Regions from separate parts of the Homo sapiens genome. Here all the other regions are reported to be linked to region 2. Evidence: microRNA targets listed by miRTarBase, many of them from high-throughput screens and not tested one by one. Region 2 holds a microRNA gene; each other region holds the end of a gene's coding sequence. Distances are from middle to middle.
Evidence for each region. Region 2 holds the annotated microRNA hsa-miR-6786-5p (GCGGUGGGGCCGGAGGGGCGU, at 1,191-1,211, shown strand). A microRNA usually pairs through its seed, bases 2 to 8, with sites in the 3' UTR of a target mRNA and lowers its output. Matches are read on the target gene's strand: a 7mer-m8 pairs with bases 2 to 8, a 7mer-A1 pairs with bases 2 to 7 and ends in A, and an 8mer does both.

Region 1: the mRNA of HES7 is a reported target of hsa-miR-6786-5p. The part of its 3' UTR that is shown has no 7-base or 8-base seed match.
Region 3: the mRNA of ZNF333 is a reported target of hsa-miR-6786-5p. Seed matches in the 3' UTR shown: 7mer-A1 at 2,304-2,310.

Annotation. Positions count from the first base shown.
Region 1 is chr17:8,118,097-8,122,096 of GRCh38, reverse strand. HES7 (hes family bHLH transcription factor 7) reads left to right here. Exons shown (of 4, transcript NM_001165967.2): 4 at 60-1,505. The coding sequence ends at 526. ALOXE3 (arachidonate epidermal lipoxygenase 3) reads left to right here and starts at 3,583. Exons shown (of 16, transcript NM_021628.3): 1 at 3,583-3,611; 2 at 3,794-4,000. It overlaps TRK-TTT3-5 (tRNA-Lys (anticodon TTT) 3-5), which reads right to left and starts at 2,942; the gene lies at 2,870-2,942. TRQ-CTG1-5 (tRNA-Gln (anticodon CTG) 1-5) reads right to left here and starts at 2,345; the gene lies at 2,274-2,345. It also overlaps TRL-TAG1-1 and TRR-TCT2-1. RefSeq lists silencers at 1-26, 247-706, 1,647-1,856, 2,227-2,316, 2,447-2,496 and enhancers at 3,017-3,116, 3,267-3,336, 3,417-3,496, 3,218-4,000.
Region 2 is chr17:81,692,619-81,696,618 of GRCh38, forward strand. MIR6786 (microRNA 6786) reads left to right here and starts at 1,139; the gene lies at 1,139-1,251. It overlaps HGS (hepatocyte growth factor-regulated tyrosine kinase substrate), which reads left to right. Exons shown (of 22, transcript NM_004712.5): 9 at 885-963; 10 at 1,036-1,134; 11 at 1,252-1,347; 12 at 2,197-2,235; 13 at 2,306-2,449; 14 at 2,546-2,605; 15 at 3,168-3,381; 16 at 3,739-3,911; 17 at 3,989-4,000. RefSeq lists a silencer at 58-243.
Region 3 is chr19:14,717,924-14,724,105 of GRCh38, reverse strand. It overlaps ZNF333 (zinc finger protein 333), which reads right to left. Exons shown (of 12, transcript NM_032433.4): 12 at 2,207-5,878. The coding sequence ends at 4,781. Among named protein-coding and RNA genes, the nearest start is that of ZNF333, 31 kb to the right of the region's middle.

The DNA of each region.
Region 1 (4,000 bases), 74 Mb from region 2:
TTCCCTCACCCCTGCCGGGCCCCTGCCCTGCCCACCTGTGCTCCCGCCGGCCGCACCAGCCGCCGCGGCTCCAGGGGTTCCCCGGTCCCCAGTCCAGGACGCCGAGGCGCTCGCCAGCTGCTACTTGTCCGGTTTCCGCGAGTGCCTGCTTCGCTTGGCGGCCTTCGCGCACGACGCCAGCCCGGCCGCCCGCGCCCAGCTCTTCTCCGCGCTGCACGGCTATCTGCGCCCCAAACCGCCCCGGCCCAAGCCGGTAGATCCGAGGCCTCCAGCGCCGCGCCCATCCCTGGACCCCGCCGCACCGGCCCTTGGCCCTGCGCTGCACCAGCGCCCCCCAGTGCACCAGGGCCACCCTAGCCCGCGCTGCGCATGGTCCCCATCCCTCTGCTCCCCGCGCGCCGGGGATTCTGGCGCGCCGGCGCCCCTCACCGGACTGCTGCCGCCGCCACCGCCGCCTCACAGACAAGACGGGGCGCCCAAGGCCCCGCTGCCCCCGCCGCCCGCTTTCTGGAGACCTTGGCCCTGAGCCTTGGGGGGTGGTGGGGGCGGGGTCTAGGGGTGGGGTAGAGACTCCAGCCCGAGGGCAGCAGAGGGACCCGGGCGTCCGGGCGAGCAGGTGTTGGGGAGGGCAGTGGGGCGCGCGGGCTCAGCGCGCGGGTGAGATGTGGTCTATATTAGAGTATCTATATAAATATATATTTCCCTGGTTCCTGTCCCTTTTCCCTGCCCCAACTTCTCCCTTGCGTCTAGGATTGTACTCTCTCTGCCCCTCAGCCCAGTCCCAGTCCCTTCCCGAGTCCCTAGTGCATGGAATAAAGTGGTTATTAAATCCCCGTGTGTCCCCGAGCCAGGGGCCTGCCTTTATCTCGACGTCCACGCCCACTTTCCCTTCCCTTCTGTCTCCCACCCTCAGTCCTGCTCTCCATGGCCCAAGCCCCGGGGCAGACAGGTAAGTAAAGAAGAGAGCAGAGCGGGAACTGAGATCGAAATTGAAACCAGGTGGAAAGAGAGAGATAGGGTAGGGGGAGAAGGGATGGGGGCCTTTAAGAAAAAAACGGATAAAAAGGAAAAATTGAAATAAAATCGACTCTGGTGGGATTCGAACCCACAACCTTTGAATTGCTCTATTCGTCACTAGAAGTCCAATGCGCTATCCATTGCGCCACAGAGCCACCCGACGAACGGCGGCGTCTTGTAGCTTACGGGTACTAGAGTGGGAATGGGGCAGGGTTGGGGAGCGGGGCTAAGGGACTTGGGCGGGACATGCCAGGAGGGCGCGGTTTGGATCTCAGAGGCCAAGCCAGGTAGAGGTAGCGGGCGCAAAGCATGTTAGCCAGGTGAGAGAGAGGGCGCACATGGGTCGAAAAAACAGGGAGGGAGAGCAACCGAAAATGGCTGAGCGAGCGAGTGCAGAGCTCCGGCTGCCCGCTTGGGGGGTGTTTCCGGCTCAGGCGCTCCCCACTCCCAGATATAGTCCCACCCAAATAAACTAGTTTTGTTGTAAATTTCTGTGTGTTTTTGTCTCTTCTCGTTTATCTGTTCTGCCATCTGCTGCTATGCGGTCCACAGTCTCGATGGTTCTTCATTTCCAGTCTAAAAGATGTGGAAAAGGAGACGAATCAATTTGGCACTCTTAAGATTTGCCCCATTCCTTACTTCTAGTCTCTTAGGAGGACAACGGGGACAGTAAGTTTTCGTGCAGGTAGCGTGGCCGAGCGGTCTAAGGCGCTGGATTTAGGCTCCAGTCTCTTCGGAGGCGTGGGTTCGAATCCCACCGCTGCCAGGCTGGAGTTTTTCTGGTGGATTACGCACCTGCTACAGTTCTGTTAACAGTTCTGTGAGGTTACACCTATTTACATGCAGAAAGTAATTTTACGAATTCCCCTGGTAATGGTTTCACCATCATCTTCCGTGTTTGGTCTTCCAGAGAGATCATAGGCCTGCATCCATCCCAGAAGCTAAGACCTGATGGTAACTGCTGAAGCAATATTTCGTTTCTTCATAACATCTCTATTATTTCGTTTCTTCATAACATCTCTATTTTAACATGTTTTCAAATGTTAGCTCAACTTCCAACATATTTAAATAATTTATTGTACGTTCTCTTAACACTGTGTTATAGGACTCAATTATCCGGTAGGAAAAGCACAAATAATTGGTAGTGTCCTAGTTTACTTTTTTTTTTTGTCGTATTATCTTGGGTCATAGGAGTATCCCCTCTGTGAAAATCAATTAACAATATTCAACATGCTGATATTAAAAGAAAAGCTTCAAGGTTCCACCGAGATTTGAACTCGGATCGCTGGATTCAGAGTCCAGAGTGCTAACCATTACACCATGGAACCTCCCTCGTGGTGTCTTTCAAGATTGTGTACATTACTGGACATTCTATTTTGCGTGTCTTCCACACCCGTCACTTAAAACGAAAACAAAACAAAGTCTGCTGTTGGATATGGTAGACACCGTTATCGAGCACTTGAAATATATGAATTCAGATGTATTGCCAGCTTCTAAATACACATCTTCTTTTGAAGGAAGGCTTTGTACAAACAAAAAGACTTAAAATTTCATTAATATTTTTAGAATGTTGATTATATGTTAAAATAAGATTTTGGTATATTAGGGTAAGTAAAATAGATCCGTGAAATTAATTTCGCTTGCTTTTTATTCTTTGTAATGTGGCTACCAGAAAATGTAAATTCGATAATACGGCTCGCGTTTGTACTGTTTTAAAGTATGTTTATTACCCTCCACCGTCGTTTGCTGTATTTTGTGGAAATCAAGTTTCTGTATCACCTAGCTTTAAAAACTAGTAACTATTTTTGTTACCATTTTATGCGAAGTGCGGTACCCAAAAGCAAAGACATGCCGCCCGAACAGGGACTTGAACCCTGGACCCTCAGATTAAAAGTCTGATGCTCTACCGACTGAGCTATCCGGGCTCTTCACGAGAGCTTTACTTTTTGCTTATAAGAGGGTTCTCTATAGGAAAAGCCAGGCTTGTAGAACCGACAGAGGATTTTATCTGTGCAGCATAGAATATTTTGGCACAGATTTGGAAGCAGCGGGTGAAGCTCGCCTGCTGCTGATTGAGCTTTTTCTGCCTCCCGTTCTTAGAGCCCCCGCCGAGGCTGCGACGCAGGGACTGTACCATAGTAGAGGCTGGAACAGTGCGGCGCCGGAACCGGCCGCGCGGGGCCGCTGCGGGCTATGGGCTTCTCTGAGAGGTTCCTCCCCAGTCCCTAGTGGCCCAGATCCCGGACACCTGGGCTCCCGCCCAGGATCCTGCAGGCCCAGGGCGGTCCTGGAGCGGAAAGAATGCCACGCGGGGCATTCAGACCCTGTTTGCCGGCGCTGTATTTCGCTTTCCTGACCTGCCCTACTCCAGAGCAGAGAATGAGGTCGGGCGTGCCAAAGGCTGGGGACAAAGAGGGCCATGCGTGGGGGGATCGGTGTATGGGGTGACAGGGAGCTGTTCCTGACCATTTGACATGTGCTGGAATGCGTGTGCGACTCACCTGCGTGTGGCTGCAGTCACGTGTGATTTATGACCAAGTGCAACTCTCCACTGTTTAGTGATTCACACGGATGATTCACACGTAGGAATGCAGGTGCCCTGTGCTCATCTCTGCCTGGGAATGGGGAGGAACAGATCTTGGGGGACATTGGGGAGTGGGCGGACAAGCACTCCAGGGCATCAGTCCGGGCCGCTGACCAGGCGGAGGGCAGTGTCCCAATTATACAGGCGTTACCTCCTTTTCTCCATCTCAGCATCTGATCCCTCCCTCCGCAGTGGAACCCAGGCTCCTGATATCCATCTGGGTGAGCCAGCCAGAGGGACCGGCTGTGTCAGAGGCAAGCAAACAAGTATTAGAGTGCAAGACTGTGGGCGGAGAGAGGAAGCCCGAGCCGCCAGCAGGGAGCTTCGGAGAGAGAAAGCCCAGGAACATCCCAGAGAGAGCTGGGCCCATCCTCAGCCCTACCCAGCCCCGCAGCCCCT
Region 2 (4,000 bases):
CACTTGCTGCCGTTTCCCTGTGCTGGGGGCTGTGCAGGTCTGCCTCGGTGTGGACTTTTCTCTTAGGAAAGAGCCCCAGGTCGGCCGAGCACGGTGGCTCATGCCTGTAATCCCAGCACTTTGGGAGGCTGAGGCGGGCAGATCACGAGGCCAAGAGATCAAGACAATCCTGGCCAACATGGTGAAATCCCGTCTCTACTTTTTAAGTATTTTATACTTAAAATTTTTGTATTTTATACAAAAATTAGCGGGCTTGGTGGCAGATGCCTGTAGTCCCAGCTACTCGGGAGGCTGAGGCAGGAAAATCACTTGAACCTGAGAGGCGGAGATTGCAGTGAGCCAAGATGGCGCCACTGCATTCCAGCCTGGGCGACAGAGCAAGACTCTATCTCAAATAAAAAAAAAAGAAAAGAGCCCCAGGTCAAAGGTCAGCGTGCGTGGTTGGAAATTGCGACCATGCTGTGAGCCTGCGGCCCTTGGACTGCCTGGGGCGCCCCGGAAGAGCTTACTGGGCATGACAGTCACTGACCTGTTTGCCCCTTCTTGGGTGGGGCCCGTCCCACAGTGGCGGTGCTGTGTTTGGTTTCCCGAGTGCCGTAGGAAGGTCTTCGCAGGCCGGGCTGGTGTCCTGAATGTCCATTTTCAGGAGAGGAACTGGGGCTTACCCTGAGGGACTCACCCGAGCCCTTGTGGCTGGTGTGATGCCCTCGAGTCCTGCCCTGCTCTGCTCTGGAGTGTGGCCATTCGGACACCTGTGGCTGTGGAACCACTGTCCTCACTCTGTGGGGACACTTAGAGGAGCCCGCAGAGGTGTGGTTGAGAGCTTTGGCGGGGGCAGGGCGGTGTCAGCGCATGGTGACCTGCAGCATTCCTTGTGCCCACAGGAAAGCGGAGGGAAAGGCCACTTCCACCACTGAGCTGCCCCCCGAGTACCTGACCAGCCCCCTGTCTCAGCAGTCCCAGGTACTCAGCCCCCTCCGTCCCGTGGGCACCTCTTCCCCGGCGCCCCCCCTCACCCTCCCCGCTTGTCCTCAGCTGCCCCCCAAGAGGGACGAGACGGCCCTGCAGGAGGAGGAGGAGCTGCAGCTGGCCCTGGCGCTGTCACAGTCAGAGGCGGAGGAGAAGGAGAGGCTGGTAAGCCGGGTGGGGCGGGGCGGCCTCAGGAGGGGCCCAGCTCCCCTGGATGTGCTGCGGTGGGGCCGGAGGGGCGTCACGTGCACCCAAGTGACGCCCCTTCTGATTCTGCCTCAGAGACAGAAGTCCACGTACACTTCGTACCCCAAGGCGGAGCCCATGCCCTCGGCCTCCTCAGCGCCCCCCGCCAGCAGCCTGTACTCTTCACCTGTGGTGAGCGGCCCTTGGGCTGGAGCTCCCTCTCCTGGAAGGCAGTAGGGTTGATGGGGGACGCGGGTCCCTGAGCTGATTTAGTCAGGTTGGTGGGGGATGCGGGTCCCCGGGCTTCCCAGAGAGGACAGCCCCAGCACACGGGCGGACATCAGGGCAGAGCCCCACGGCTCCAGGCACCCGTTGCTCCTGGTCCCTGGTTCGGCCCTTGGGACTGAGGACATGGGACAGGCTGTGGGGGAGGCGCCTTGCTGGTGAGACCCCGTCTCTTCCACACCCCTCCCGCCCCACAGGAACTGAAGGACTTGCTTTCTGGGGCATCCACGTCACCTCTCCCTGGCCTCAGCCCCGCTCTCAGTAGAGGGTGAAGAGGCAGCCTGTTTTGCAGGGGGTTGGGTCGGGGACAGCAGGTTGAGAAAGTCATTTTGTAGGTTCCGTGGAGTGGCCAGGCCGCTGCAGGCCCAGGGGTGCAGAACAGCCCTGCCCCAGTGAGCCACCCCTTCCCTTCTTCCCTTCCTTCCGGGCTGTCGGCTGGGGCCCCACACGCTGGACCGTGGGGGCTGTCCAGTGTCCACCTTGAGGCCCCAGGGCTGGCCCAGTGCCACCCTGTTCCTCCCATAGCAAGGTTAGGAGCCTTGTAGGACGGCAGTGCTGTCAGCCTCTGTGGAGTTCTAAGCATCTGGAAGAGGAGAAAAGATGGCTGCTCAGATGCCAGGAACCAGAGGAGGGCACGGAGGGAGGGCCCAGGCTGCGGCTCTGGTCTCCAGGATCTGTCGCACTGGGGACATCCCTGTCCCTGCCGAAGCAACTGGCTCTGTCACCTGTGAGACTCAGATGCCCTTTTCTCCCCAGAACTCGTCGGCGCCTCTGGCTGAGGACATCGACCCTGAGGTAAGGCCCAGCATGGGGTGCATCCTCTCACGGTTTCTGGCCTTGGGAGTGACCCCCTCATTGCCTGCAGCTCGCACGGTATCTCAACCGGAACTACTGGGAGAAGAAGCAGGAGGAGGCTCGCAAGAGCCCCACGCCATCTGCGCCCGTGCCCCTGACGGAGCCGGCTGCACAGCCTGGGGAAGGGCACGCAGCCCCCACCAACGTGGTGGAGGTGAGGGGGCCACTCCCGGCATTCCTAGTGGCAGGGTCCCTTGGAAGGGGTGGATGCGGGACAGGTTGGAGGCCCCACTCATTCTCTCTCTTCCAGAACCCCCTCCCGGAGACAGACTCTCAGCCCATTCCTCCCTCTGGTGGCCCCTTTAGTGAGGTAAGCTGTGGCTCCCTCCACGGGCCAGGGCAAAACATGGCCTCCTGGCCCACAGCGCCAGGCACATGGCACAGGTGCCTGCCCTAACCAGAGGGCCGTGCTAGAGCAAGGGTGTCTGCCCCAGCCCAGCCCTGGCCTGCCCTGCCCTGCCCTTTGTGGCCTCTCCCAATGGAAACTCTACACCAGGCTGTGGTCCAGAGCTCGGGCCACTCTCTGTGGACCTAACATGGACCTGAATATTCCAGAGCAGCCTAGAACCATCAGATGAGTCCTTGGCGTTGCCTGGGGCTTGTGGGCTGGTTGGCTGTCAGAGCACAGGTCCCTGGAGAGGGAGCTGGCAGTGGGGCCCTGAGCCAGCTCCGTCCTGACCAGGGCTTGCAGCTGGACAAGGACCCCGCCTCCAGGGCCTCGCCTTCCTCAGCTGTAGAAGGGGCTGCTTGCATAAGGAGCAGATGGACTCTGCTCCAGGCTTGAGTATAGCTGGGTGCCTCCATCCCAGGCCCCACCAGGGAGGCTGGCTGGGGCGTGGCCGCACTCATCCAGAACCCTGCTCTGCCTGCAGCCACAGTTCCACAATGGCGAGTCTGAGGAGAGCCACGAGCAGTTCCTGAAGGCGCTGCAGAACGCCGTCACCACCTTCGTGAACCGCATGAAGAGTAACCACATGCGGGGCCGCAGCATCACCAATGACTCGGCCGTGCTCTCACTCTTCCAGTCCATCAACGGCATGCACCCGCAGCTGCTGGAGCTGCTCAACCAGCTGGACGAGCGCAGGCGTAGGTGCCCGCGCCACGGGGCCTCGGCTCAGGGGCAGCCAGGTGTTGTGAGCGCCATCCTGGGCCAGGGCCTCCCCTGAGGGTGCTGAGCTCTTGTGAGTCCTTCATTGGGGCCGTGGCTTCCTCCAGAGAGTGTCAACAGGAGGTGGTCTCAGTGATGACCATGCCCTGCCCTGCCCTGCCCTGCCCTGCCCTGCCCTGCCCAGGACCCTCTGCCTGCCTCCCCCAGAGCCCAGCACCTTCAGAGCCCTCTGCAGAAGGTTGGGCACAGGGCGGCCCATCTGCGTGTCCGTTCCACCCAGGAGCTTCTCGGCACTGTGCCGGAGTGGTCAGGGTTGCTCTGTCATCTGCCCACAGTGTACTATGAGGGGCTGCAGGACAAGCTGGCACAGATCCGCGATGCCCGGGGGGCGCTGAGTGCCCTGCGCGAAGAGCACCGGGAGAAGCTTCGCCGGGCAGCCGAGGAGGCAGAGCGCCAGCGCCAGATCCAGCTGGCCCAGAAGCTGGAGATAATGCGGCAGAAGAAGCAGGTGCAGTGGCTGCCCAGCCACAGGCCGGGGCCGGCTGGGGGACCTCGCAGCATAACCAGCATGTTTTTGCCGCACAGGAGTACCTGGAG
Region 3 (6,182 bases), not on the chromosome of region 2:
TGTTGACTGAAAAGGCAGTACACCAAAAGATGGAGACACCCTGCAGGGTGTTGATGATGGTGAAGAGATAGGCAAGAGCATAGCAACTGGGCCCACCTGCAGAATGCCCAAACACCAGGTGCAGCCCAAGATGAACAGCTGATCTGTCACCTTGAATGTCAGCATCCTGGATTGGATGAGAAAAGAGGCCCATAATATACCCATAATAACAAAGGCTATTTCATCTCCATCCCATGGATATCTCTGCCCTCTCCTGTTGGTCATTTCTCACACTTGAGTTTTGATCAACCTAGATCTTTACTGTTGATAATTCCCCACAAAAGAAATGCCATTTGGATCCAGGAAAGCATTTTAACTTGGACCAAGGAGAGTAGTGACACTTCATAATATGGGTTGCAAAAGAAGTGTGATGATCAACACAAAAAAACAGTTGCATTTCTATGCACTAACAATGAACAACCCAAAAAGGAAATTGAGAAAACAAATCCATTTACAACAGCATTAAAAACAATAAAATACTTTGGAATTAACTTAACCAATGAGATGAAGAACCTGTACACTGAAAGCTAAAAAGCATTGCTGAAAGAACTTAAAAGAGACACAAATAGACATACTATGTTCACGGGCTGAATGACTTAATATTTTTGCAGAAACAGAAAAATATCCATCCTAAAACTCATATGAAATCTCAAGAATACCAAACCAAGAAGTCAAAACCATCTTGAAAAAGAACAGAGTTGGAGGTCTCACACCACACTTATTTCAAAATTTATTGTAAAACTACAGTAATCAACACAATACGGTAATGGCATAAAGATAAGACATATAGACCAATGGAATCGAGGAGGGAGCCCAGAAATAAAACCTCACATTTATAGTCAAATGAATTTTGACAAGGGTGCCAAGACCATTCAATGGGGAAAGGACAGTCTTCAACAAATGGTGCTGGGAAAACTGGATATGCACATGCAAAAGAATGAAGTTGGACTCTTTTCTTACTCCATATATAAAAATTAACTTGGCTGGGCATGGTGGCTCACACCTGTAATCCCAGCACTTTGGGAGGCTAAGGCAGGCAGATCACAAGGTCAGGAGATCAAGACCATCCTGGCTAACATGGTGAAACCCCATCTCTACTAAAAATACAAAAAAATTAGCCAGGCATGGTGGTATGCGCCTGTAGTCCCAGCTACTCAGGAGGCTGAGGCAGGAGAATCACTTGAACCGGGGAGGCGGAGGTTGCGGTAAGCCAAGATTGCGCCATTGCACTCCAGCCTGGGCAACACAGCAAGACTCCGTCTCAAAAACACAAAAACGAACAAACAAACAAACAGAAATTAACTCATAATACATCAAAGACCTAAATGCAAGAGCTGAAACAATAAGACTCTTAGAAGAAAACATAGGGGGTAAGCCTCACGACATTAGATTTGCAATGATTTTTTGGATATGACATCTAAAGAAAACAAAAAATATCTATAAGTTGGACTACACCAAAATCTTAGACTTCTGCATATCAAAGGATACAATTAATAAAGTAAAAAGGTAACCCCTAGAATGGGAGAAAATATTTGCAAATCATATATCTGATAAGGGGTTAATATTCAGAATATATAAAGAACTTCCACAACTCAACAACAACAAAAAACTAATTTAAAAATGGTCAAAGGACTTAGACATTTTTCCACAGATGACATACAAATGGTCACAACTAAGAAGGAAAAGCCCAACGTGTGTTCTTCCAGCCTCTGCTTCTGTCATGTTTGTCAACACTCCATTGGCCAAAGAAAGTCACATGACCAAGCTCGTCTTCAAGGTTTGGAGAAATAAACTCCACCTCTTGATAGGAGGAGCTGCAAAGTCACATGGAAAAGACATATACATAGAGGGATAGAAGAAGTCATTGTGGCAACCATCTACCACTGCATCATTACTTATCAAGAATATGCAAATTAAACCTAAGAAACTGCTGCATACCCACTAATGTAGCTCAAATTAATTTGCGTGACAGTACCACATGTTGCCAAGGATGTGAAGCAATGAAACTTTCATTCATTGATGTACAAATTGAGGTGTAAATGGTTTCAACCACATTGAAAAACTGTCTGGCAAGATCTACTAAAGCTAAAGATAGGTCTCCTCCAAAATCCAGTAATTCCATTCCTACATTTATACTCAAGAGAAATGAATACCTATGTCCACAGTATGACTTAACAAGAACATTCACAGCAGCTTTATTCATAACAATAAAACCTGCAGGATTATTCACAATAGCCAAGATATGGAATCAACCTAACTGTCCATCGGTGGATGAATGGATAAAGAAAATGTGGTATATCTACACAATGGAATACTATTCAGCCTTGATGAGGAAGGAAATTCTGTCATTTGTGATAACATGGATGAACCTGGAGGACAGAACTCAAATGTTTGTAAACAGAATAGAATTTTTAAATTGTGGTATATTCAGACTATGGACTATTACACAGCAATTAAAAAGCATAAACTACTGATAATACAACATAGATAAATCTCAATGACACTATATTAAGTGAAGAAAACAGACACAAGAGGGCTGTTTATGGTTCCATTTACATGAACAGGAAAAACAAATCTATGGTGATAGACATCAGAATAGTGATAACCTTTGAGGATGAGGTGGGGCCCAAGGGAAATTTCTGGGACGATAAAATATTTTGATGGAGACCGTGGTGGGTATAGACATATACAAAATTCACCAAGGTGTACCCTAAGATTTATTAACGTTTATGTAAGTTATACCTAAGAGAACTTTAAAACCAAAAAAAAAAAAAAAAAAAAAAAAAGAACAAGTAAAAATGGAGACTAGTCCCCTGGGTCTGCCACTGTAGAGAGAGTCAGGCCTGTCACATGCCACCCAGATGACTTTGATAGCCCACCTTAACTTGCTGGGCCTCAGCTTCCTCATCTGGGAATTGGGGATAACAGTACATACCTCAAAGTGTCAGTGTGAGGACTAAATTAAAAGATGCAAAGCTTCAGGCAGTGGCTACTATCTATTAATAGTAAACTCTAAATAAGTATTTACTATCATTACAATGAATGGTTGAATGTTCAGTAATAGGGAAAAGGATGATCACTTTATAAGAATAAAAGTAACAATTTGTTGGAAATGTAAAAAATGTCAGTATCTATATTTAATTTCATTGCTTCAAAACATATATATGTATGTATATACATAAATTTAAAAACTGACAGAATGACAAAGATTTTTCAGCAATACATAATCATGGTGGGAGAGTTTAACATACCTCTCTCAATAAATGCTAGATCACAGATCAACATTTATAAATGTGTAGATGGTTTTTAAACACATTTGCTTGATCTAGCAGACATTTGTAGAATACAATACATTGATTTCAACCATCCATGAAGCATTTATAAAAACTGACATATACTAAGTGCATCAGTTAGGAATTATATTCAGGTGAAATAAACCTCCCACCAAAAACAAAAACAAACAAAAGAAAACTGTACCAGTAAGAAGTGCATATTTTTCATGTATGGGACATCCAGAAATAAATAGTCCAGGGCTGCTGCAATCACATAAATATGCCAATTCTATTAAATCTATCCTAAATATTTTTTAGATTACAGAAGCAAGATGGTTATGACTTCCGGCCACCCTCTTCTTAGCTTGCGGCTTTTACCCTTATGGTCACAGGAGGGCTCCTCTAGGTCTAGAAATCATGTCTACTTGTCCAAAAGGCAAGAAGTGGAGAGATGTGGCTACATGAAACCATCCCTGAACACAATATCTTCCCCAGAGTCACATCCAGTGACTTCTCATATTCATACTAGCCAGGACCGGAGGAAATGGCCTGCCCTTGCTTGCAAGAAGGGCTGGGAGATGGAAGCTTTTTTTTATTATTATTATTTTTGAGACAGAGTTTCACTCTGTTGCCCAGGCTGGAGTGCAGTGGCGCAATCTCGGCTCACTGCAACCTCTGCCTCCTGGGTTCAAAGAATTCTCCTGCCTCAGCCTCCCAAGTAGCTGGGATTACAGGTGCATGCCACCAAACTTGGCTAATTTTTATATTTTTAGTAGAGAGGGGATTTCACCATGTTGGCCAGGCTGATCTCGAACTCCTGACCTCAGGTGATCCCCCAGCCTCAGCCTCCCAAAGTGCTGGGATTAGAGGCATGAGCCACCGTGCCCAGCCGGGAGATGGAAGCTTTTTAATAGTGCACACTGCCAATCTGAACAGAAAACCCAGGTTCTTTTCTAAGGAGGAAGGGGTAATTTGGGTTGGCAGCTAGAAGAATAAGCCACACCAGACCTAATAGCAAATCTCAGCAAATACCTATGACTCAGTAACAAAGAGGCCACATACTCTTCTCACCATGTAATTAAATTAGAAACCAACAACAAAAAGGCAACTAAGAAATAGCCATATAACATGCAGGAACCTTCCAGAGAGATAGAAACATTCTATATCTGGAATGGGGTGGTGGTTACATGCATGTATGCATCTGTCAAACTCATCCAACTGTACACTTCAGATGTATGCATTTCACTATAAGTCATTATACCTCTATGAAAATATATCCACATATTAGTTTTGAAAAATCTAATTCCAAATAATAGATGGGTCAAAGAATAAACGATAATGGAGGTTAAGACAATACTTACAATTAAACCAAAATGAAAATATTATACATTGAAACACAGGATGCAGCTAAAGGAGTATTACGAGGGAAAGTCATAGCCCCATGTGTTTATATTTTTACAAAATGGAAGTTAATTAGCAAGGGGCCCACAGTATGGATGAGACATGGATAAAGGCAGGCTGCCATTCCTAATGGTCTCTCTTCCCACATGGGTTCTTTTGTGTACAGTGAGTGAGGAGCTGTGCCTGAAGGCTTTCTCACACTGATTACATTGATAGGGTCTCCCGGCACTGTGTGTTCTCACATGTACAATAAGATGTGAAGACTGACCAAAGGCTCGCCCGCATTCCTGGCATGCATAGGGCTTCTTGCCACTGTGAGTCCTTGCATGTTTCCTGAGGGATGAGGGCTCACTGAAGGCTCGCCCACATTCCTGGCACACATAGGGCTTCTCTCCAGTGTGAGTTCGCATGTGACTCTTCAGGGTTGAAAGACGACTCAAGACCTGACCGCAAGTCGCGCACTCATACAGTTTCTCCCCTGTGTGTATCCTCTTGTGCACGTTCAGATGAGTGCTCGTCCGGAAGGGCTTGCCACACTGGTTGCATTCATATGGTTTCTCTCTGGTATGGGTTCGCAGATGTGTCTTCAGTGAAGAGTGTTCCCTGAAGGCTTTCCCACACTGGCTGCATTCAAAGGGCTTCTCTCCAGTGTGAGTTCTCACGTGGCTCCTGAGGGATGATGGCTGATTGAAGGCTTTCCCACAATCTTTACACTCGTAGGGCTTCTCTCCTGTGTGGTTTCTCTGGTGCAAAATCAGGTTAAAGTTCCTCGTGAAGGTTTTCCCACACTGACTACATTCAAATGGCTTCTCTCCGGTATGGGTTCTCATGTGTCGCCGGAGATTCGAGGAATATTTGAAGGCTTGCCCACATTCTTGACAGTCAAAGCACTTCTCTGCAGTATGAGTCTTCTCATGCCTGATAAGGTCAGAGCTGTATCTGAAGGATTTTTCACATTTGTTACATGCATAGGATTTATCCCCACTACGGATTTTCTCGGGCACAATTAGGTGGGCACTCTGGAAGAAGGAATTTCTAATCTCTTGACATTCACAGGATGCCTCTCCAGCATGAATTCTCTGGTACTGGAAAAGTGGTTCAATGCTGTTAAAAGGTTTCTCAAGTTCATTATATTTATAGAGTTTTTCTCCAGGCTGAGGTTGCTCCTGTCGATGAAGGAAAATGTGAAGACCAAAGGCCTTATTAGATTCACAGATATTCTCCCCTATGTGAAATGAATGTAAGAAAAAGACAGTTCTATATCTGATACTTTTACCATTTATGGAGTCCATACCATTTCTATCCAGAGTTCCTTCAAGTGGAATAGGGTGGATACTCTGTTGCAAAGAGCTATCTTTTCATTATTTTCATGCAGCTTCTTAGATGCAGAATTTTTCCAATTTGTGTAAGGCTAAATTAAGTCTTAAACACTTTGTATGTGTCATATCTGTGAAAATGCTTACTTGTACG